Linked DNA regions of Homo sapiens: regions 1 and 2 are each linked to region 3. The links come from fine-mapping of genetic effects on gene expression. A gene starts in region 3. Each other region holds a variant in brackets. All regions are shown on one strand. Distances are between the middles of the regions. Region 1 overlaps WDFY2 (WD repeat and FYVE domain containing 2). Region 2 overlaps WDFY2 (WD repeat and FYVE domain containing 2). Region 3 holds the start of WDFY2 (WD repeat and FYVE domain containing 2).

Evidence for each region.
Region 1: its variant is fine-mapped to the expression of WDFY2 in whole blood (TOPMed, PIP 0.98).
Region 2: its variant is fine-mapped to the expression of WDFY2 in whole blood (INTERVAL, PIP above 0.99).

Annotation. Positions count from the first base shown.
Region 1 is chr13:51,722,286-51,730,468 of GRCh38, reverse strand. It overlaps WDFY2 (WD repeat and FYVE domain containing 2), which reads right to left. Exons shown (of 12, transcript NM_052950.4): 6 at 2,679-2,791. LOC124903177 (a long non-coding RNA gene) reads left to right here. Exons shown (of 2, transcript XR_007063807.1): 2 at 8,016-8,183. Among named protein-coding and RNA genes, the nearest start is that of DHRS12, 78 kb to the left of the region's middle. The variant C/T (reference allele first, on the strand shown) is at 4,583.
Region 2 is chr13:51,628,008-51,636,190 of GRCh38, reverse strand. The region is part of intron 1 of WDFY2 (WD repeat and FYVE domain containing 2); the gene reads right to left. Among named protein-coding and RNA genes, the nearest start is that of WDFY2, 48 kb to the right of the region's middle. RefSeq lists enhancers at 7,277-7,895, 7,896-8,183. The variant C/T (reference allele first, on the strand shown) is at 4,423.
Region 3 is chr13:51,579,360-51,587,542 of GRCh38, reverse strand. It overlaps WDFY2 (WD repeat and FYVE domain containing 2), which reads right to left and starts at 3,081. Exons shown (of 12, transcript NM_052950.4): 1 at 2,719-3,081. The coding sequence starts at 2,855. It also overlaps the pseudogene RNY1P6. RefSeq lists a silencer at 2,861-3,230 and enhancers at 3,371-3,650, 3,309-3,829.

The DNA.
Region 1 (8,183 bases), 140 kb before region 3:
GTAAAGAGAAGGGGATCCAGGGAAGATCCTGGGAAACCGCAGACCACAGTGGAGCCTGAGAAAGCCAGCAGCGTCATAGAAGAAAAGCCAAAGGAAGGCCGTTACAGCCAGAAGGAATGGCCACAATGTAAAATGCTGCTGAAAAGTTAAGTACGACAAGGTTTACAACGTGTCCCAGCAGGCCACTGGTCACCTCGGGGACAGCAGTTTCAGTGGCGTAATAACGACAAACCAGATTGCAGGGAGCTGGAAGGCAAATTGGAAGTGAAAAATATGAAGCAGCTGGGAAAATTATATTCTTTTAAGAAACACGATTGTTTGCTACAACTTGGATGAACCTTGAGGGCATTATGCTGAGTGAAATAAGCCAGTCACAAAAGGACAAATACTGCATGATTCCACTCCTATGAGTCACCTAGACTAGTCAAATTCATAGAAACAGAAAGCAGAGTAACAGTTTCCAGGGACTGGGGGGCCGAGGGGGAGGATGGGGAGTTAATGTCCAAGGGAACAGAGTTTCAGTTTCACAAGATGGAAAAGGTTCTGTGATGGATGGTGATGACTGCACAACAGTGTGAATGTAGTTAATGTCATTGAACAGCACATTTAAAAATGGTTAAAATGGTAAACTTTATGTTTTATACATTTTACCACAATTTTTTAAAAAGAAGCATTGCTATTAAGAGAATAAGAAGGAACTTGCTATAAGACATGGGATTGAGAGGGTGTTGCTTTGTTTTTCTACCAGAGGCAAAAAACATAAGCATATTAATAAATTGAGAAGAATGAGTTAGTCAAAAGAGAGATCAAGGCAATCCATTTTGGCGTGGAGACCCTGCAAATAGACTGGGGCCAGAGGAAAGCAGCTCTCCTGCACTGAGAAGAGAAGAATGGGCTGGAGGAAGACTGCTCTCCTGCACTGAGAAGAGAAGAATGGGCTGGAGGAAGGCAGCTCTCCTGCACTGAGAAGAGGAGAAGTGGGGAGAGAAAAAGTTTGTTTGTTGGGGTGAGGGGGATATACAGTGGGCAAGAAATATGTGGTTTTTTTTTTTTTTTTAAAGCTTCTATTTGATAGCTTTTGAAGGAAGAGGCAAGGAATGAGATGGCGATGGGGGCTTGGGAAGGATGGTGAAGGTCTCTGTTTAGGGGCCTGGGAGAAGGAGTGAACTGAGGACAGGGAGAGGGATTATTAGGCAACTTCATGAGTCTGCACAGGAAATCGTGAGTGTGCAATGGTAATGATGGTCTAAGCCTCAAGGCAGCGTGACTACTGTAGACCCAGCAGCTGGCTGCACAAGAAGAAAAGGTGGAGAGTTAGTCTGAATCAGACAGGCTTGCCAAGAAGGCAGAACATTTACATTCACAGAACTGAGAACGCTGAGAAGCCGTGGGTGAAGCGATGCACCACTGGGAGGAAAGGTGATGCAGGGGAAGAGACGCTGGGAAAATGGAAGGACCGCGGGCTAGAATGCGCCACAAGGGGAAACAGTAAGTGGAATGAAGAAAGGTGTAGGGAATTGGAGGATGAGGAGGCTGAAGTCTGCAGTGACGCACAGAAGTTTAAGACTTCTGAGGTGGGACAGTTCTGGGTCCCCCCCAGAACCCCAGGCCCAGTCTTGGCCAAAGTGTAGGTGAGGGTGTAAGCGGCTAAAAAAGAAATTCAGTCAGGGAAGACCAGGGTCCTATCCATAGGGGATATTTCCATGTGTTCTTCCTCCCAAAGGCATAAATAATTAAGATGATCTTTTATGAATCTTCTTCCTTGGATTCAATTTTTTCCTTACTATATGTTTCTTATTCTAGCATTCCATTTTTTCCCTTTAGGAAGCCCCTTATGAACCAGGTACTATCCAATTTTACATCCTCTTTCCCCTACTTTTTTTCTTATATGACATCTAAACTCAGTATTCTCCTGTTTTACACAAAATCATGGGTTTGTAGCTGGTAGAAAACGGAAAAGCCCTTTAAGAACCATGAAAACTGGCGATGACTCATTTTCTAGGGTCGATAAGTTCTAGAGTCAATAGTACACGTTAAAACTACTAGTAAAAAATTAATCATTATCATCTATCAAGTCTTTCAAAGGCTAAGCATGAATATTTTATATTACCTTGCTTAAGTGACCCTGAGCAAAGCAAAAACATAAAGGGGACCTTAGGTTTTAACCTGAAAAGGATATGAAGGAAGGAAAGTTGGAGAGGAACTTGACCTTTTTCACAAAGTCTAGCTACTCATGAAGAGTATATCTGTCTTTTCATGTGACTTGGAAGTGGGAATCTTTCTTGTACACCATCTTCTAACTCCAGGAAGGGCAAGGTCAGACCGAGGCAGCTGTCTTTTTGGCCTTCTGGGGTTTGAGCCGTCCGAGGCCACATGGTCTCAAACAATGCCTCATTAATGTATGCCAACACTGGCTTTCTCTGGTGCAGTATGACAGAGAACCAAATTATCAACATTTTCAAAATAGATTGGTTTCTCTTTTGTTTGGATTATACAGAAAAACGTTTGATGTTATATCTTACTGAACCATTTTGAAATGAGTTAAGCATATCATGTGTATCTTTGCACAAGCATGGATTGTACTTTGCCACTTTCAAAACATATCTGAACATCAGGAGATGCAGCAGGCGATATCTCACTGTGCTATCAGCACATGACGATTTTACTGTTAATCCTACCTGTGTGTCCTCTGAATGTTGTGACCAGGGTGCAGTTTTCTTGCTCCAGTTTGAGGATTGTTACTTGGCCTGAGTGGTCACCGATAAACACATGCCGGGTTTCAACATCAAATCTGTCATGAAAGCATTAAGGATTGTTTCTCAAAATTAAATGAGGGAATTTACAATGAAAAAACAGGGCATAAATGTAACAAGAAATACGCAAATCCCATCTGAGGAAAATGTGAAGACAGTGCTGAAAGACACAAAAGTGAACTTAACTAAATGAAGGACATACTGTATTATTGGACAGTAAGACTTAAAACTTAAAGATGTCACTTCTTGCTCCTAAATTAATAAAATAAATCTATATATTTAAAAAATATCAACACATGTTGTTTTCTATAGCCAGAAGTGTTCATATGGAAAAATAAATAAGCAAAAAGAGCCAAGAATACTCTGAAAATAAGAACAATATGGTATGTGATAGGGAGGTTAGCCCTACCAGATATTAAAAAATGTTATAAAGTTTCTTTAATTAAAAGTGTAGTATTGGTGCATAAATAGACTAACAGAACAGAATACAAAGTCGAGAAATAAACCCAAAAGCACAATGAAATTTAGTAAATGTCTGATGAAGGTAGCTTTTCAAATGAATAAGGAAAAGATGAATTTAAAAAAATGATGTTGGCACAAACTGGATAGCCATTTGGAAAAAGAAAATAGAATCTGTATTTCACAATGTATACTGGGACAGATTCCAAATGAATTAGGGATCTAAATGTAGAAAATGAAAACATAAGCTTTAGATAGGAAAGTTTCTTTGTAACCTTGGAGTGGGAAAAGCTATGACTCAAAAACACAACAAATATTATGAGCAAAGCCAAAAGATAAACTGGAAAAAAATATTTGCAATTTATGTCACAAAGGGCCCAAATCTCTAATATAAAAAGAGCAATCAAGAAGAAAAGGATCCCAAACCTAATAGAAAAATGGGCAAAATTTGAATGGAACTATTAATAGATAGTTCAAGAAGAAATCAAAATGGTGCTGTGAAAAAAGAGTTAACACAGCAGCTCTGACTGTGATCCTCTGAAAGTCGGCTTACGAAGTTGGCATAGTGTCTGGGAATTTGGATTTTGGGAAGGTTCCCACCATTAACTGATAAGAGTGGCTCACTGTGCCTTAACTGTTCAAATAATGTGGCTTACACTGAATACCTGCTTTCCTTCTGGGAATCTGGAATTTTGGAATGTCCCAGGTAGATCTGCCTACGTGACCAGTAAAAGCCCTAGGCATGGAGTCTCTAACAAGCTTCTCTGGTTGACAAAGCCTAGCAACCCTATTTCTAAAGATCCACCCAGAGACACACAGGCAAAAATACAGAATGACACATGCCCAAGGCTAGTCACTCCATGTTATTTTAATAGCTAAAGTTTGAAAATAACCCAAACGTCTATCAATAAGGGACTTACTGAATTAACTATGCTACATCCACACAATAGAATATTATGCAGCTGGGGTAAAAATGGAGATCTTTATACACAGACACCAGGATATATTATCAAGTGTGTGTGGAGGGGGCAGCCAACGCATATGAGAGTTTATAAGCTATACTACCTTTGTGTAAGAAACAGAGAGAAATACAAATGTGTATGTATGTGTGTGCATGTGCATGTATGCACTCATATTTAGAAAGGGAAGCACTAGAGGGATTAAGATCTAACAAAAGTGGCAAGGTCAGGGGACAGTGATGGCAGTGAGACTTCTCCCTTGTCATAGTTCCTATTTTAGAATTTTGTAAAATCTTTACATATTAAAAGGTACAAAAATTTGTGGCCAGGCACAGTGGCTCATGCCTGTAATCCCAGCACTTTGGGAGGCCAAGGAGGGAGGATCACTTGAGCCTGGGCAACAAAGTGAGA[C/T]CTCATCTCTACAAAAACTAAAATAATTAGTTGAGCATGGTGGCACATGCCTGTGGTTCCAGCTACATGGGAGGCTGACACAGGAGGATTGCTTGAGTCCAGGAAATTGAAGCTGCAGTGAGCCATGTTCAAGCCGCTGCACTCCAGCCTGGGTGACACAGTGAGACCCTGTCTTAAAAAAAAAAAAAAAATTGTGTATATATAGATATATACACACACACACACATATGTATATACATACACATATATATCTCAAAAAATCCCCCAAATTGAAAACAAAGTAAAATGAATGAACCTATCAAATTGGTGACATAATCACATAATTAGAACAATTTCGAGTGCCTTTAAAACACAACATTTTCAATGTTTCAATGTCTCACTTTGTTGCCCAGGCTGGTCTCAAACTCCTAGGCTCAAGTGATCCTTCCACCTTGGCCTCCCAAAATGCTGGGATTACAGGTGTGAGCCACCATGCCTGAGCAAAAATTTTATGTATTTTTAATATGTAAAAATATTACAGGATTCCAAATGGGAACTATGACAAGGGGGAAGTCTCGCCCCCATCACTGGTAGAATATATTCTAAGGACAAAGAGAGTTGCAAAGAAATCTAAAATCTCATTCAGTAGTCTTATTGTTATTTAGTATTGCTCATTATTTTGGAACCATTTAAATAAACCGTAGGATAAACCAAATGAGGAACTATGCCAATGTTTTAACAACCAAGATTTTCAGCCGAAGATAAAAGAATCAAGTGCAAAAACCAAAAAGTAAAAATCCCATAATGTTAAATTTGAATAAGAAATATTATATGAACTTATGATTTATTCTCTTTTAAAAAATACACACACATTTATATATACTTCTTAGCTATCTCTGAATATTGTTCCTCACTAAAAAAATGGCTGATTCCAGGATTGGGACAGGAAAAGTACAAGATGAACTTGAGACATGTTGAGTCAGAAGGCAAGGAAGCTACTGAAGGCTAAGTGGGCTTATTTCAGACACAGTGATAAGGGATGAACTGGTAGAGCACAGAGGCTATTTAGAGCAGTGAAACTATTCCATATGATGCTACAATGGCAGATACATGTCTTTATATACTTGTCCAAATCCATAGAATGTACAACACCAAGAGTGAACCCTAAACTATGGACTTCAGGTGATAGTGACGTGCCAATGTAGGTTCACTGATTGTTAACAAGCATACCACTCTGGCGGGGGATGCTGGTAATGGGGAGGCCATGCATGTGGAGGTCATGAGGTGCACAGGCAATCTCTATACTTTCTGCTCAATTTTGCTGTGCACCTAAAATTGCTCTAAAAAATAATCTTTAAAAAATAAAAATTGGGCTGGGTGCGATGGCTCACGCCTGTAATCCCAGCACTCTGGGAGGCCGAGGCGGTCGGATCACGAGGTCAGGAGTTCGAGACCAGCCTGGCCAACATAGTGAAACCCTGTCTCTACTAAAAATACAAAAAATTAGCTGGGCGCGGTGGTCAGTGCCTGTAATTTCAGCTACCCGGGAGGCTGAGGCAGGAGAATCGCTTGAATCCAGGAGGCAGAGGTTGCAGTGAGCTGAGATAGTGCCATTGCACTCCAGCCTGGATGGCAAGAGTGAAACGCCATCTCAAAAAAAAAAAAAAAAAAAAAAAGTTAAAAAAGACATTGGAGCCCATTTAATGGAGCTATTACTGGCCAAAAATAGGATAATTTGAACATAAAATAAAAAGATGGCAGTTTATTGATATATACTGAACATATTATTATTTAAAAACAACCAACCAACCTAAGATTTCATAATAGTGCTCAAAAAGAAAAAAAAAAGATTCCTATTAAAGGTGAGCAGGGCACCAAATCTGTACTCTGAAAATTAGGAACTAAAAAGACAGATATAAGAATTTATCTTGCTTTTCCTATAATAATTGTATTTCAGGGTAACCAAATAGCCCTAGCTAATGAGGCAGGGGAAGTTATCCTTTAGGATTCCAACAAATACATGGGAAAAATATGATAGGATTAGAAAATCACCATTTAGCAACCTTAACGAAAAAGTGTTCAGGCAAAGCTCAGCAACGGATGAAACTATTAAAAGGCTGGTATGGAGGACGGCGCTGCAGGGATCTGGCTGTCACCACCCGAACTGCCAATCAATCTCAGCATAACTGAAAGGGCGACAATCCAATGCCATGTGCCTTATAATGGGAAGCTCTATGAAGCACACTTGGTGAGAACCAAATGCTCTCACTAAAAGGCTGAATCTGAATGAAATCAAGATTATAGGGGCAGTTTTTCAGTTTACTGAAAATATGTGAGGAGAGTAGGTAAAGGAGCAAGTTAAATGACATCAATTTAGAATATGGGACTGTGTGCAGGAGAACTGATTCAGTACCTTCAACAAGGCGGTGGCATTAAAAAAAAGTGAAGGGGGCACTGCTCTGGATGAAGAAAGATTTAGAAGACGTGACAACCACATGCAATGTGTGGATCTTGTCTAGATCGAATTTCAAACAAATCCACTGCACAAAAGCCATTTTCAAAATAAGCAGTGAAATCTGAAATTCAACAATATCAAGGAGATCAAAGAGTGATTGTTAATTTTTAGATGTAACAATAGCATTGTGATTACTGAAAAAGTAACCCATATATTTTCAATGAAGTATATAAGGATAAAATGATATAAGGTCTAGAATTTGCTTTAAAATACTCCAGCAAAAATTGAGAGAAAGCAAAAAGGGATAGAAGAATCAACAGTGGATGTGAATGACTGGCATTAAGTATGATAGGAAGAAATTGACATAATCTTAACAGCTTTTCAGAACTCTTTACCTGAACAGAAATAAATCTAAGAGATTACATTAGGTGGGAAACATTCCACTACACAGGGTGACATTGTGGAAATATCTCTGACATGAACAAAATCCTAAAATAGAATATTTGAATTATTTTTGTGAAAACAGGAAAAATATTATCAAAACATGGTCAAATAACAAGACACTGACAAATGACGCTGGATAAAGTATTCACAAATTTAAAGACTAACAAGTGAAGTGGGGAAGGAACACATTTCTATTTACTATCATCTACCTGCCATGGGGTCTTTGGGAAATAACCCCATTCTGCTGTACCCAGTTGTGCAGAGGGCTGGCTGAAAAATTACAATCCCCCAATTCTAATGCTGGTTCTGCCGGCTAACAGTTACGTGACCTTGAGCAAGTCACCTACTCCCTGAGCCTTGGTTTCTACACTGTGAAAACAGAGAATTAGGTCTTTTGTTTTTACTTCACATTATTGTTTTGACAGTGAACAAAGTAATGTGTAAAAGACTGAAAATCTAAGACATTTTCAGGGCCTGCAAATCTGAGATTTTTTTCTTTTCCCTTTTCCTTTTCTCTCCTTCTTATTATTGTCATTCTTGTTGTTCCTATTACAGGTCATTTATATTTGAAGCTTCAGATCTTCGGTCAAAACAATCAAAGAATTTGAAGTTATTCATAAATTGATAATTCAATTTATGAACCAGTCTCTTTGTCTTCCTTTACTTTTCTACTTGAATTTTGGTTATTTTCATTGCATATTTACTTCTCCACTAAGACGCCTG
Region 2 (8,183 bases), 49 kb before region 3:
GACTCATTGACCTGAAAATGAACAAAACTCAGCAAAAACCAAAATCTTTCAAGAAATATCACCAATTACCTAATGGACGATTGTTGGGGTTCCTGATATATGTAAGGGAAGACAAAATTGTGCACCCAGCATGTTGAAAAAAAAGATGATGAAACTTCCGGTGGGCATTCCTTCCATTAAGAGAGTCAAGCCAGGTTAAAGTGTATGTAGGTGCTTCCATATCTGAGAAGGGAATTACACTTTGGTACTGCCCAGATATAGGGACACCAGAAGAGAAATGGGGAATGAGGGTATGGTTACAGTAAAGCTGCCAGTTTTCCTTCCATTAGTTGAAAAAATTAAATAATAGTAGCAGAAGGACTAATAACATATTGAGCATTCATTATTTTCAGACACATTGTGTTTTATTTGCTTTGTATCATTTAATCCTTACAAAAGTACTACGAGTAAGAGAGATCCTGTTTTCACTTCCCCTTTAGAAGTGAGAAACTGTAGTGTGGAGACCCTCACCTGTCTGTAGTTCCCAAGCCATGGGGAAGAAGAACCAGGAGTTCCTCCCGGGAGTTTGACTCGAAAGCCTAAGCCTTACCATGAGACTATTTCTGAAGCTGTCTGAATGCTCAGAGAGAGGAAGAAATCAGACATGGAGGACAAAAGGTGAAATGCAGGAAGTTTGGTGAAAAGTTTTCACTATTTAGAAAACAGAAGACAGGAAGCCGAAAAAAATGGCTTATAGGCATTTAGAGCACCTTGCACAGTGCATTAGCTAGATCTGGATTTGATCACGTCTAATTTATGCCTCAAGGTACAGAGACAAAATACATGCTGTTCTGTGAAATTCTCTCAATTACGCAAAGCTGCTGTTCTTCACAGCCTGGCATGAAAAATGATGATCACGTCATAATTTCTCTCTCAACTCTTGCCATTTAAAAGGTTTAGGACTTCCTGCCGGGGGTGCAGTAGCTCACGCTGTAATCCCAGGACTTTGGGAGGCCGAGATGGGCAGATCACTGAAGGTCGGGAGCTCAAGACCAGCCTCGCCAACATGGTGAAACCCTGTCTCTACTAAAAATACAAAAAAAAAATTAGCCAGGCGTGGTGGCAGGCACCTGTAATCCCAGCTACTCGGGAGGCTGAGGCAGGAGAATTGCTTGAACCTGGGAGGCAGAGGTTGCAGTGAGCCAAGGTGGTGCCACTGCACTCCAGCCTGGGCAACAGAGAGAGACTCCATCTCAAAAAAATAAAACTAAAAAATTAAAAAATAAGTAAATAAATGTTTAGGGCTTCCTTATGGGGGGACTCTGCATTCTTCCCTTCCCTCTACTCCAACTCTGACCTATGGATAAATCCACTTAACCCAACCATGATGCACCCTATTGTTTTGATCAATAAACAAATGTCTTCACAAAAAAGTCCTCCTTGCTCTACTATAGTTCTTTCCTGGTACTGAATATATGGGGAAAAAAAAAACAAAACAAAAAAAACAGCCTTTTCCAATCTTATAGACATGCACCACCACACCTGGCTAATTTTTGCATTTTTTAGTAGAGACGGGGTTTTGCCATGTTGGTCAGGCTGGTCTCAAACTCCTGACCTCAGGTGATCCACCTACCCTGGCCTCCCAAGGTGCTGGGATTACAGGCGTGAGCCATTGCACCTGGCTGCCTTTTCCAATCTTAGTGCTAACAAGTATTATAAATTTACAAAAGCTTAATTGACTCTTACCTGGATTCATGATATATTTTTAAATCTTTGTGTATTAAAAGGCTAAAGTACTACTTTTCCTTAGGTTTGGTAAATATATATTGAGTATTTATCATGAATCAGGTCTAGTACTAGGAATACAAAGAGGGTAAAAATGGGTTCCTGGCCCTCACAGAACTCACAGAGTAAGATTTTCATCCACTACTTCTGAAAAAAAAAAAACACTTCTAGGGCTTTGCAAGACTACACTATCAGTTCTTGGTTGTTAAAGCCCTGTAATAATTCAAATAACTCTCATAAAGCCAAGCTCAGTTTTAATGACCTGAGAATTATTTAATCTTTACAATGGTCCTCTAAATTGGGATTATCCTCATGTCCATTTTGGAGCTGATGAACTGAGGCAAAAAGAAGTTAAGTAATTTAGGTAAGTAATTAATTTAACCTCTTAGAAATTAATCAAAGGAGCCAGAATTCAAACCCAGGCAACCTGTCTCCAAACATCATGCTCTTAACAACGATTCTCTCCTGTCACTGAAGAAAGACTAAAATAGTGTGGCACTGCACCAGATTAAACAGAATGACCAATGGGAAAGAACTGAAAGCTCAGAAACAGACCAAAGTATATATACTAACTAGCATATTAAAAATTTATTAAAAATCATAGGGGGACAAATGAATTACACAATAAAAGGTGCTGCCCTATTTATTTATTTGGTTCTAAAAACTTCAGGTGGTTTAAAGAATTACCTGTGATGGTCTAGAATCAAGATGATGCATGTGACTCCCTCCCCTCATCACTTCTTGCTAAAATGATCCAACTAATTCAGGAGAAAAAAAGTCTCCACCACTGACTGGCTACTTCATAAGTGACCCATCCACAAAAGTGACCCCTTGAGAAGAGCTAACAGGAATAATTTAGCAAACAGCAGAGTGAGCGGAGAGGCCAATTAGCAGCCAGTTCCCAGAACACCCACAACAAAACTGCTGCCATTCATCAATTATTTAGATCCAGATACCCTACTAAGTGCCTTAAGCCGTTAACAAATTTCAATATTATTATACACACGAGTAAACTGGGGCTCAGAAGTTGAACAAGATGACCAATGTTATACAGTTCTCAAGTAGCACAACCAAGATTGGAACACAAAGGCGATCAGACTCAAGTTTAAACTCTTAATCACTCCACTACACATGGGGTGGCCAAGTCCACCAGGATCCCCACTTCAGAGCCTACTGACAGCTCCAGGGTTGGAGCAGAGGCTGGAGGCCAGGCCAGTGCTGGAGCAGCAGCCATGCTGGTTGGAGTTTCTGCCTGGATGCCTAGGCCAGGCAGCTATTCAGGGGGAAGGGAAACTACCCCAGCGGGCCAGAAGCTGCCAAGGCAGACACAAAAGGAACACTGTTCCTGAACAAAGACAAAGTCTGCCCTGCAGTTGTCTCCCACTGCCTACAGCTTCAACCCTGCCCCACACAAACTATTAGAACTCTAAGCTGCAGATAAAAAAAATCACAGTAAATCTAACGTTTTTCCCTATTTTTGCCTGGAATGAAAAGAACTGAATAATGACCTACACAACCTCTGACAAAGCATATTTCAGTTACCAATAATGAACAAATTAGACCTACTTGGCAGATGAGTGAACAGAGAAGCTAGCAAACTAGACAGGGGAAAGACCCAGTATTTTAGGTGAAGTGAAAATGTTTGAATAATTAGGGTAACTGCTAGAAACAAGACAAGTTTGTACATTTAAAAATTTTTAAGATTGCACATTTTAAAATTTTCTCAGTGAGATTTAAACTTTTTTATCTGTATCATTGATTACAAAAGTTATTATGAAGAGAGATGAAAAAGGAGCAATAGGACATAGCAAATGAAAGTAAAAAGCAAAATGGGTAGCCTAAAGAAGAGATGCACTGAAATGCAGACTGGCTCCTGCATAAAACCAAACGGGAACCTGAAAGACCTGCTCCACGAAATCTCCCAGAAAGCACAAGAAAACAAGGAAAAATGGGAAATTATGACTGAAAAATATAGCACCTGAATGGTAGAAGATCAAATCTGTGTCTAATAGGTATTTCAGAAAGAGAAAACAGAAGAAATAATATTTAAGTAAAGAAAAAGTAATAAATAATGGGAAAAAAAACAGAACTCAAAATGAGTTTTTTAGAATATAATTATTCATTCAGAGCTTGGCAAAATTAATCACAAAAGAACCATGCTCATCCTAGGAGAGCTTTGGAATGTCAGAGAGAAAAAGAGTCCAATAGACATCCGCTCCTCCACCAAGATTAAAAAAATAAAAAGGAACATGAATGAGATGAACACTGGGTTTCTCATCTACCATACTAAGTGTTAAAAGACAATGGAGTAAGATTTATAGGACTCTGAAAAGATAAGTCTATGACACACAAATTCTAAATTTAGATGAATTATCAATACTATAATTATCATTACTATAACATAGAAGAAATACATTAATAAACAGGGGAATCAAAAATATACTTTCCACATACCTTATCTGTAGAAATATTCTTAAGGAAGGGAGGATATATAATCAACTGAAAAAATAGAATAAAAAACTCAAGAAAGTAAAAGATAAATAGAAGTATAAGAGAAACAGCAGTGAGCAATAAAGCTAACAAAGCTAGAGAGGTCTAGGCTGGCCACAGTGGCTCACGCCTGTAATCCCAGCACTTTGGGAGGCTGAGATGGGAGGA[C/T]TGCTTGAGCCCCACAGTTCAAAACCAGCCTGGGCAACATGGCAAGATCCTCGTCTAAATAATGCGTGTCAATGTTGAAATCATAATGCAAATTATGCTTTCAACATTGTAAGTTGAAAGCATGCTTGAAGGAGCATAATGTAAAAAAAATGAACAAATGTTTCTCATTATTTCAACAAAATTTAGACGGTAAGGAGAAGAAAAGAAAATGTGCTGAAGTGATCACATGGCTTAGGAGAACTCCATAGATACTGTTCTAATGATAAACAAGTAAGTTCAAATTTTAATTACCCACAAGAAGAACAAAAATTGGACATATAACTTCCAAGTCACAGAGAATTGTTTTCCTTCTTTTTAAATTTTTTTTTTTTTTTTTTAGAGACAGGATCTTGCTTCATCTCCCAGGCTGCAGTGCGATGACACCATCATGGCTCACTGCTGACTGAAATTCCTGATCTCAAGTGATCCTCCCACCTCAGTCTCTCAAGTAGCTGAGACTACAGGCACAAGCCACCACACCCAGCTGATTTTTACATTTTTTGTAGAGACGGATTTCTCCATCTTGCCCAGGCTGGTCTTGAACTCCTGGGCTCAAGTGATCCTCCCGCCTCGGCCTCCCAAAGTGCTGGGATTACAGGCGTGAGCCACCATGCCCAGCTTGTTTTCTTTCCTTAAAAAACAGAAAAGCTTGCTGGGCATGGTGGCTCACGCCTGTAATCCCAGTACTTTGGGAGGCCGAGATGGGTGGATCACCTGAGGTCAGGAGTTCGAGACTAGCCTGGCCAACATGGTGAAACCCCGTCTGTACTAAAAATACAGAAAATTAGCTGGGCGTGGTGGCACACACCTGTAATCCCAGCTACTTGGGAGGCTGAGGCAGGAGAATCGCTTAAATCCAGGAGGCAGGGGTTGCAGTGACCCGAGATAGCGCCACTGCACTCCAGCCTGGGTGACAAGAGCAAAAAACTCTGTCTCAAAAAAGAGAAACTAAAAAAAAAAAAGAAAAACTTGAAAAAAAAAATTTCAGTGAAAGCTAAACAATCAGCATAATAACTTGAAAACATAACACAAAAAGCCAAGGGTAAGACCAAACATTCAGTAAACGCTAATGGGTTAAATACCCCTATAAAAGAGAAACCCCTCATCAACTGGGTGAAAGAACAAAATACCACCCATCTGACTGGGTTATTAAATGAGGCAATGTGTGCAAAAGTGCCACACGTATAGTTGTTCAAAAAGTATGCATAAAGAAAGAAAGAATGTTGCGGGCACTGTGGTGACCCAAACATAAAAAAAAAAAAAGAAAGAAAGGGAACTCTACCAGTTTAAAACACCAAAAAAATTCACTAAAATAATAATTTTTTAAAGTCTTATGATGAGCTGACAGGAAAATAAAACAAATCATCAGAAAACAAAAACAAAGTATATAGTCTGTGACTCAGAAATTCCACTTACAGAAATCTACTCTACATTCACATGCTATAAAAGTAAGAAATCGTACATGGGAATAAATAAGAAATTTAGGACAGCTTTCTCAGTTTAAGATGATTTGGGCTGCAAATAACAATACCTAACCTCAGTGATTTAAAGAAAACAGGGTCTGACTTAAAACAAAATGACTAGAAGGTAGTTCCAGGTTGATTCAGTAACTCAATGTCTTTAATGGCTAAGGCTCCATATTTCTGCTCTATCACTGTTAATGTGCTGGAGATATTATGTTAAGTGAACATAAGGTTTATAAGACTGTGTATATAAAATGATTTTAACTATACTAAGATCAAAGAAGAAGTAGTTAGGAAACATATTAATGTTTGCTAACATTAGTGGTTGCTCCAAGATTGTGGGATCATGAGTGGTTTCATACCTCCTGCTTCACATACTGTTTTTGTACTTTCAATATTTTTCAGATGTAATACATCTATAAACCAAAAAAAAAAAAAAAGAAAAGAAAGAAAGAAAAGAAAAAAAAATCAAAGAACTAAAGAGAACCGTTACTGAAGAAAACAAAAAGCCTCAATCACCCCTTGGCCACAGTGACATAGCTACTTTCTCCTTGTTTTCCAATTAGAATTATTTCAACTTGATTTGTTTATGAGGTTTTTAAATTCTCCATGACACACACAGTAGTTTTGTATAAAAAGGAAGCTCATGATGTTATTAATGATTATCCTCTATGTAGAGTGCAATGCTTGTACAGAACAGTTCACAGAGTATTTCACACACCTTTATTTCATTTATATTACTGAATACAACCCTTATAAATAAATAGAGAAAACTAAAAAATAGGTAAATAGACCATTTTGTAGTGAGGAACCTCTTCCAAAGTCATATTAAATTGAGAAATTTAAAATCAACCCAAATAACATCCTCTTTTCATATACCATGCTTCATAAACATAATACTAAAACAAACACATGGTTATATCAATTGCCAAAGACTTAAAATTCTTTTAGGTATCTAATTAATACCAGTAACCATCTGCATTCCTAAATCTACTGTAATCTATCTACATGAACGTTTAGAGACCAAAGCAGGCTAGGGAGAAACCCACACTATCCACTTGGTGTGCTTCATGGTCTTCCTCTGTTAGCCTTCCTCACTGGAAGAGAGAGAACAGCTTGAGAGACTTCCCATGTGAGGAGTATCACTTATCCCTTAGTTTCATAGGCATTTTCCAAGACTGTCTTCTCCATAGCTTAAAACTAAAACTCTGGGTCTCAGAATTTCAACTTCAAAGTTGAAGGGGACCTAAGAAATAATCTATTCAAACTCTTCATTTCACACACAAGGAATCTGTCAATGTATAGTTTAAAACCATCAAAATGGATCACAGAAACAGAAAAGTCCCACAGAGCATACAAATATGTCTTCAGAAGAGGTCAAAACCCTGGAAGAATTTAGTCTGCTGCTCAATCTTAAAGTTATGACACTATTTTTTAAATGCTGGTCAATGGGTTTCTAAGGCCCTTTTTAGACACTGCAATTCCACCTGTTAGAAAATTCCATTCAGTTAAACATGACTTGCAGAGTAAAGCAACTAACTGGCATCTGTGATGCATCAAGGGCTCTATTAGCTCATCCTGCCTCTCTTCTTCCGATGGCAGCCGTGGCCATCTGGAGGGACCACTCGGAAGAGGCCGGCTGCAGCAGGGGGGGTGCCGCTAGGGATACTCGCTCTGTGAGGCCAGTGGGAGCAAGGAACAGGCGGAAACCCTGCCCCCTACCGAGTTGGTGGGATGGGAAACCGGTGCTCCTGGGTGTAGCTGCAGCCATCCAGCTGAAGCTCCAGACACGAGCATCCCTGGACTCTCAGGGGCCTGGGAAGCCCTCCTGTCCCCACAGGCTCAAAAAGACCTGCTCCCACGCCCTGGCCTCTCCCACCTCCTGGCGTCCGCTCTGATTTCAGAACAAAGTTGAAGCAAAGCCCAGGCACTGCCGTGACATGGTCGGGTGTGCATGCACATGGGGCAGCACTGCACACCAGCATCCCCCAACACCACCTCGGCCCCCTCTGAAACTTTGGGCACTGAGGAGCTCAGGGAGGGAGCCCAGTGGGGCCTGAGGGGCGGCTCAGCGCAGGACTGCAGGTGCCTCTCAGCACGAACAGCCTGGGTGCCGTGGATGGCATGTTGATGCCAGGACGCAGACAGGTTCCTGGGCAGAAAGGGGTGGGTCCCCAGTGAAACCCCACCTTCAAGACAGGGATGGCCTGAGGTCTGCCAGTTCCAGCTAGAGTCTGGGGCCCAAAACGAGAACTTATG
Region 3 (8,183 bases):
AGTACTTTTCCTACAAGTGTATACTTGTCCACATAAGCCTTTCATAGGTCATCATATAATTCACTCAACAAATATCAACTAAAAGTCTACAGTAGTTAAGATGCTGTGCTTTCAGGAACAGCAAAAAAACAGATCAGTCACTGATACAACAAACGTGTATTGAGGACGTATTGCATGCCAGGTACCATGTTAGGCCCTAATGATGATACAATGAATAAGACACACAAAGCTCCATAGGGAACTCACAGAAGAGAAAATAAAATGGACATGAAGTATATACTGTATAACACCGTTTAAAATGGAAAATGTTAAGTGTTTTCAAAGGCACACATAAAGGCAATGAAGAAGTCAAAGGTCAAAAAGATAAACCAGGGTTTCATTAAGAATTTATGGAACACTGCCATTCAGGTATGGAACATTACTTGCGGCTTTAACCTCAGAGTTCAGGAATGAAGATTACTAGTTTCTAGCTAAAGCAGTGAATGGTAATGGCTTTGTAGGTTGTGATGAAAATCAATATTACATTTTCATATATTTAGCATTGTACCAAGTGACATTAACATTGAATTTTGGAAAGCAAGAATATAGATCAATTATTTTAATGAAAACCATAACCAAAACTGAGCTCTAAATAACAAAGTTATGTTCATGTTTGAGTATATGACCCAAAGAAGCACAGACTTGTCAACTTGAAAAAAAGTATATTAATAATAATTCCAGACTTATGGGTGAACCTTATTTAACAGTAACTCCATGACAAAATAATTTCTATTATTTACATTGTACACTAGGAAAGTGAAAATTAGGCTAAGACATAGCTGAACATTGCATTTCTTTCATCCTATAATCAAATGAAATTTATTCTTCAGTTTCATTAATATACACTACTTCAGCGTCTCCAAACACTTGAAAATATACCCCAGTAAAGCTGTTTCCTTCAAGGTAAATGTGGTGAAATGGGAATCAGAAGTTTCAATACTATAATAACACCTTAATATTAAAGGAGCTTAGGATGGTCTGAAGGTAGTTTTATTATCTCAATTGTTCACAGTCAGTTACAGATTGAACTCCTTGTTCTACTCTCTTCCCCTTCTCACTACCGTACTTAACTAGTCTTAAAAAAATAAATAAAATATTAAAGCAGCTTAGGTTTAACTACCCTTCTCCTTTTCTTGATTCCATGAATTTGCTTATGAATTTTCCACAGCAGTTAGAAATTGATCAGTTCCATCTCCAGTAGTTACAGACTGGGAAAGTGACATCTACCAATATATTCCTTCAATATATTTTATGGAATATATCCCATAAAAACAATACTGTGCCAAAGAATTTCTAGGTCCAGAAGCAGTCTTTTTAATAAAATTTTGCCTTTATGGAAAAAATCAAACTTTCTCATAAGGCTTCTCTGTGAATTTCAAAAGGGTCCTACATCCATGTACTCCATTTCAGCCATGAATTTCTTCTGTTCATTGCAGAATGCTTGCCACTGGTGTATGTTTACAATGTTTTCCATTGGATCTGCACAGGAAATTAATCAGGCGCCATTTGTATTGAGCATGATGTAGACAAGAACATGTCATTAATATACTCATCCTAGTTATACTGAAGAACCTAAGACATGAACAAACCTATCGAGCTCAATTGTTGAGGCCACACACTATGCTAAGTGCGGAAATGACTATAAAGACAGCAATGAGCACTTTGTTGCTCAGCCTCTCAATTTTGAGTCACCAAGAAAGGATACTTTACCTCTGCATGATTTGAACTTATATTAAGAAAACCTACTTACTGTAAAATCCCCGTGTTATGTACCTCTACAGTGTTCTTTTGTAAGAATGCTTATATAGATTTTACCAAAGAAACAATTTCAGATAAATTATCATAATACTATCTTCAAGCAACATTACTCTAGAAATTAGCTTCATCAGCTTTATTCCTGCATATTCAAGGAAATTCAGTTAAAGCGAAAACGCAAAACAGAGAGAGTATTTGAAGGCAGAACAACTAGTTCCACTTCTGCATATTAAGCAAAATTAAGCAAAAATAAAGGAAACAGGCAAAGGGAAGGAACTCAAGAGCTATTTGCAGCAGTGATCCGTTACAAGTTCTACGCGCTTCTCCTCGAGCTCCAAGAGATAAGGAGGGGAAAGGAAAGAAGGCACCACGCAGAAGCCTAAACTTACTCTTGGTACAACTTAGAATATTCACTGAATTCAGCCTAAGATGTCTGGGTTATCTGGATTCAGTAGGAATGTCTGGGAAGAAGGAGTGGCATTTGCTTTCTCCGTTTGAAACCCTGGGAGCTGTACGAGAGTACCCCAAACCCCTTGGTTATCTTGCAGAGGCGGCTCAGGGCATCGTTCCCCAAGCACACACCTGCAAAGCCGGGCGGCTCCTCCCCTCTTTCCCTCCTGTCCTCAGGGATGGACCAAAGTCCCTCCAGCGCACCGTTAGCCCGAGGGCCACCCGGCTCCCGCAGGCACTACCCAGCCCGGGGTGAAGCCGGAGCGCTCGCCGCCGTCCCGGCTCCGCTTCCCGGAGCCACACAGCGGAGGCGGCGCGCAGCTGAACACCGGCACCACCAGGATGCGCATTACAATAAAACTTGGGGGAGCAAGTCTACACTCGCGCCGACGTGAAGGCACAGCCCCTGACGCGGGCTCGAGGGCCGTCGGCCCGTCCCGCCCCTCCTCGCGGCCGAATGGCAGTAGTCCATACCTGTCCTCGGAGACGCTGATGACGCCCTCCTCTTTGGGCACGATCACGGCCATATTCACCACCTCCTGGGACCCCTCCATCCGCTGCAGCAGGATCGGCTTGCGGGTCAGAGGCTTGGGCTGGATCTCCGCCGCCATCGGAGGAGGGGGCGCGCCTGGGGCGCCGCCGCCAACCGCGCCGCGGGGCCGGGCTGAGGAGACTGCTGGAGCACGGACACAGGTTGAGACAGAGACTCTGGCTGGCCGGAGCGGAACGCCGGAAACCGGCGAGCATAGCCTGGCCGCCTCTCTCGGGAACGACTCCGCGCTCCCTGCTTCAGGCACCAAAACCGCCACGACCTGGGATGCAAGCCGGCGCCACTACAAGAGGAGGGGGCGGAGCGCCGGGGGGCGGAGCCTGTGTGGGCGGGGCCTGCCGCAGGGGGTAGCCGCTGGTGGGCGCGAGGGCGGCTCCACTTCCGGGAGGGTGGTGAAGGAGGAGGGGAAACCTGGAGCAGGAGGCGGGGATCTGGTATCCCAATGCGCGTGCGTCAGTCCCGCAAGCCCATTTTCACCCCTCCCCTCCGCGACTCCCCGGGCGCTGCAGCACCACTAGGACGCATGCGCTTTCCGTTCCTCGCGGTCTTCTCTCTGCCTTACACACCCAAGGGTTAGGCTCCTCCCTCTTTAACCTCCCGTGAACGCGCGTATACACACCCCTGGGGACGCGCTTGCCAGACGCCACGCCCCTTCGAAATTCCCTGAAAAGAGGGCGGAGGTGGGGCGGGGAAAGGAGCGCCTCAGCAAGACCGGAAAGAGAAGAGGCCTGCAGGAAGGAAAGCCGCCCAACTCGTTGGGACGTGACTTGGCATGCGCGCGGGCTACCTGGCCTAGCGGTCTTAACAATGAAGCGCGGCGGGAGGCCGCTTACTGCTCCCAACATGCACCAGGCCCAGGCTGCCGGAGGGAACCCAGTGGCCTCCTGGGAGTCGTAGTTTCTTGGAGCCTCCGCCCCCTTGTCCTGGAATGACCTATCGCCCACTTTCTGCGCTATGGGCCTGAGGAGCTCAGCGGCCTCCAGGGCCATTGGCCAAGTCAGGACCCAGACTTGCCTCTATGGGAACTGAGGGGCAGCCCCCAGCTGAGTAGGACGTCACCACTCCTAGGGTCAGACTGATGCTCGGAATAGTGGCACGGAAGGGACATGAAAAGGAGAGAATCTTTCATACAGACATCTTCAAGGGAGCTCAGAGAACATATGGGGTGTCTATCCCCTCGTTTTCTTAGATGGCTAAATTACACAGCCAAGGTTACTTTAGTGCAAAGTTAGGGCTAAACAACCCCTCCTTCCCTCCAGACTTGAACCCAGGCCCCTAGTGCTGGCTTCTTTCCATTTCCCCAGCAATCCAGCCTTTTTAGCTTGCTCCAGACACAACGGACAGAGTTACTGTAGTTACTGACTGAATGTTAGGTGCCTACCAGAAGGCCTGGCATGTGGGGTTGATCGTGAAGACTAAGCTCTGCTTTTTTATCTTGCCCAAATTCCTATCTAAGGGGTCTGGGGAGTCATGGCCTACAAAAACCATAAATTCTCATCAGATGGGTTTTGACCATGTAGGTCATGACTTACTTTCCAGTCTGACTCTGGCGTAACAAGGAAGAAAATCAAAATGTTTTACCCCAAATTATATTTCCTTGCCATGCCTTAAAATTGCCCTGCAAAGTCTCTTGTGGGAAAAATCCACATTCTATATCCCCTTTCCCCTTTGTTTTCCTTCCTTCCTTCCTACACCCAGGAGATAACCAACTAAGAGCCAGGCACCGTTTTAGGTCTGGTAAGGAACATTTTACAACCTGCTGTCTCTAAAGGCTGCTATCTAAAAGATTCCTCTGCACAATAAAACCTGGTCTCCACAATCCTTTACCTTAACCTGAACATTCCTTTCCGTTGATCCCAGGTCTTCAGATAAACTCAACCAATTGTCAACCAAAAAACGTTTAAATTTACCTATAGCCTTGAAGCCCCCGCTTTAAGTGGTCCCACTTTTCTGAACCAAACCAATGTATTTCTTAAATGTATTTGATTGATGTCTCATGCCTTCTTAAGATATATAAAACTCAGCTGTACCCCGACCACCTTGGGCACATGTTCTCAGGACCTCCTAAGGGCTATGTCACGGGCCACGGTCACTCATATTTGGCTCAGAATAAATCTCTTAAAATATTTTACAAAGTTTAATTCTTTTCATCAATAGTCGTTATGTGATAACCTCCACTGAACAATCCCAGAATTAAGTTAGCCGAAGAGTAGTAATGGTCTAGGTGGTGTGATTGAGTTGCAGGGCTCTGAAAGTGAGAGAAATAATGCCAAAGCTGGGAAAAGAAAGGGACAGGCCTTGTGGAAATGTATTTCTAAGGTAGGTGTTTGGTAGCCAAGGATCTCACAGATCACTAGAGACATAAGAGAACAGGTGCAAAGAACTTGTCTCAAAGCACGCAAGGCAACTCTTTACCACCTCCCATTTTGCAGAAATTCTGTAAGCACCTTGAAATAGGATTGAGGTATTTTCCAGCTGTAGGACCTACTGCAGGCATTTCACTTCTCTGAGTCTCAGGTTCCACATCTATTTAAATAGGGCATAACACCTACATCAGGTGGTTCTGGTGGCAATTACAGTTATGACCCAGATAACTTCCCCCATCCCCTTAAAGTTACAAAGGAGGTAGCACTGGCTGCTCCCACCCCAGGCTTTATGGGAATTAGAACCTGAATAGCATTACCATAACCCTGAGTCTGACCCTCAATTCCAAAGAGCCAGAATCTCTGTCTTGTCAATCATTCAAGAAATATTTAATAACTACTAGTGATAGGCAGGGGGAACACAGATTTGAATGCAAACCTCTCAATTCTCAAGAATCTCACAGATCACTAGAGACAGATAAAAGAACGGGTCATGACAGGGAAGTGATGATGGCAAGAGTTATAATAGGGGACTCAGGAAGCTGAGGTAACACAGGAGAAATGCCTAACAGGACCTGCAGTGGAGAGGGTTGGGCAGGAAAAGCTGCATAGAGGAGGTAGAGGCTAGACAGAGTCTTGAAGGGTGAGCAGGTGCAGTCTGGTTACATGAGCTCAAAGAGTATTCGGGAGAGGGGTGAGTAAAGTGGGGGCAGTCCTTGCATGCTTGTTAGGGAAGTGAAAGGCTTATGAAGAGAGAGGTGAAGGTGAGGACATTACAGGGGCTGAGTTTGGACCATGGCCTGATGCCCCTTGTTCTTGGTTGGAAGAGATGCACCCTGGGCACCTGCCACATCATCCTCAGGTGGGATGGGTACTCAAACTATCAATTACTATCAATGTGACAGCTGCTACAATGAAAGTGCTGTGAAGTGCAGTGAGAACTGGAAACCCTGACCTGTGTCTGGCTGTTAAATCAGGGAAAGTTTTCTGGAGCAGAAAGAGCTCATCTGGAGTTTGGAACTAGTAAATCCAGACAGAGGAAACAGCATGTGCAAGAGGTGAGAAGTTGAGAGAATTGCCTCATCTCTTCTGGGAACCTCTAGTAGCTGGAGGGCAAAGTTTGAGGAGGGAGGAAGGTCAAGATATTGGGCTGGAAATATGGACAGGTGTGGACAAGCTCCTTGTTTAGGAGCTTGAGTTTTAACCTTCATGTGATGGAGAACTGCTGTGTCCTCAGAGCACGTCTCTGCTGTGACCAGCACAAGTTCAAGCTCCTGGAATGATACAAGAGACATCTACTGCTCTTGGAGGTCATCGTTGGAAGGGGAAAAGGAAGACAGCTAGTGAATGTAGAAATTCACTGTGAGCCACATACTCCAGCACTCTATCCTCGTAATTGTGTAATTACAATTGTATTATAATTGTCAGAACCCTTGGTTGCAGGTAACAAAAACACAACTGGCTAAAAAAAGAAAGGCATAGGTTATTATTGGCTTATGCCATAGAAAGTCAGAGAGGCAAATTGCCTTTCTTGCAGTCACACAGTTATAACAGATGACAGCGGTTACATACACTCAAGTCTGTCTGTCTCTCTTGCCTCCAGGTTCATTTATTCAAATATTCCCACCCCATTGATTATTTGGCTTCCTAGGAGACTTCTGATTCACTGACCATCACACTTTTCACTGTCCAATGTAGTCATAAGATTACATGTTATTATATGTAATGAGCTAAAACCAGTGCCTGCCACCCAGTAACCACCATGTAGGGTTTGCCATTATATTATGATTATCCATTATCCCCTTCATGTTCTCACTTCCCTCCTTTCACTACTTAACTCCCATTGTCCATTATCCTAACAGTCTCTTGCAAACACCCATGGCATCCTTGCCTCTCTCTCATTCTTGGCAGGCAAAACTCCAATCCTGACCAATCCAACTTTTCACTTACTTCATATCTGCTTTGAACTTGGCAGATGAAAATTGCACAAACATTCTGATTGGTCTCACTCTAGACTCACAACTGTAGGTCTCTGGTAATTCTCTTTAATTAGAAAGTTGGCCAGGCGCGGTGACTCAGGCCTGTAATCCCAGCACTTTGGAAGGCCGAGGCGGGCGTATCACTTGAGGTTAGGAGTTCGAGACCAGCCTGGCCAACGTGGTGAAACCCCATTTCTACTAAAAATACAAAAATTTGCTGGGCTTGGTTGCGCATGCCTGTAATCCCAGCTACTTGGGAGGCTGAGGCAGGAGAATCGCTTGAACCCAGGAGGCAGAGGTTGCAGTGAACTGAGATCGCACCACTGCACTCCAGCCTGGGTGACAGAGCAAGACTCGTCTCAGAAAAAAAAAAAAAAAAGAAAGTAGACGCAATCAGAAGCTGTCTCATCTTCATGTCATCAGATCTATCAACCTGCCTGCATCTGTATCCGTATTCTTCCATACTCTCTGCCTTTCTTCTGTAACAATGGAAAAAGACTGCTCCCATTCAAGGCCAGCATGAGTAAACCTCTCTTTCCTCATTGAAGATTCCTGCAGTTATTCACTCTCTATGTTGCGCCACTTTTTCCTTCTCTATTGGATCTTTCCCAGTGGAGTATAAACGTGCACTACTCTGTCTCCCATTTTTTAAATAAAGTAAACACAAGACAGGCGTAGTAACTCACGCCTGTAATCCCAGTACATTGGGAGGCTGAAGCAGGTGGATCACTTGAGCCCAGGTGTTCGAGACCAGCTTGGCAACATGAAGAAACTCAGTCTTTTCAAAAAATACAAAAATTAGTGGGCTGTGGTGGCATGCACCTGTGGACCCAGCTACTCAGGAGGCTGAGGTGGGAAGATTGCTTGAACCCTGGAGTCAGAGGTTGCAGTGAGCCAAGATCGTGCCATTGCACTCAGCCTGGGCAACAGAGTGAGACCCCCTGGTCTAAAAAAAAAAATAAATAAATAAACCACAAAACTCTTCTAGCTGCACATTCTCCTCCATTTCTTCATTCTTCTTCTCAGAAAACTACTCAGTTTGTTTGG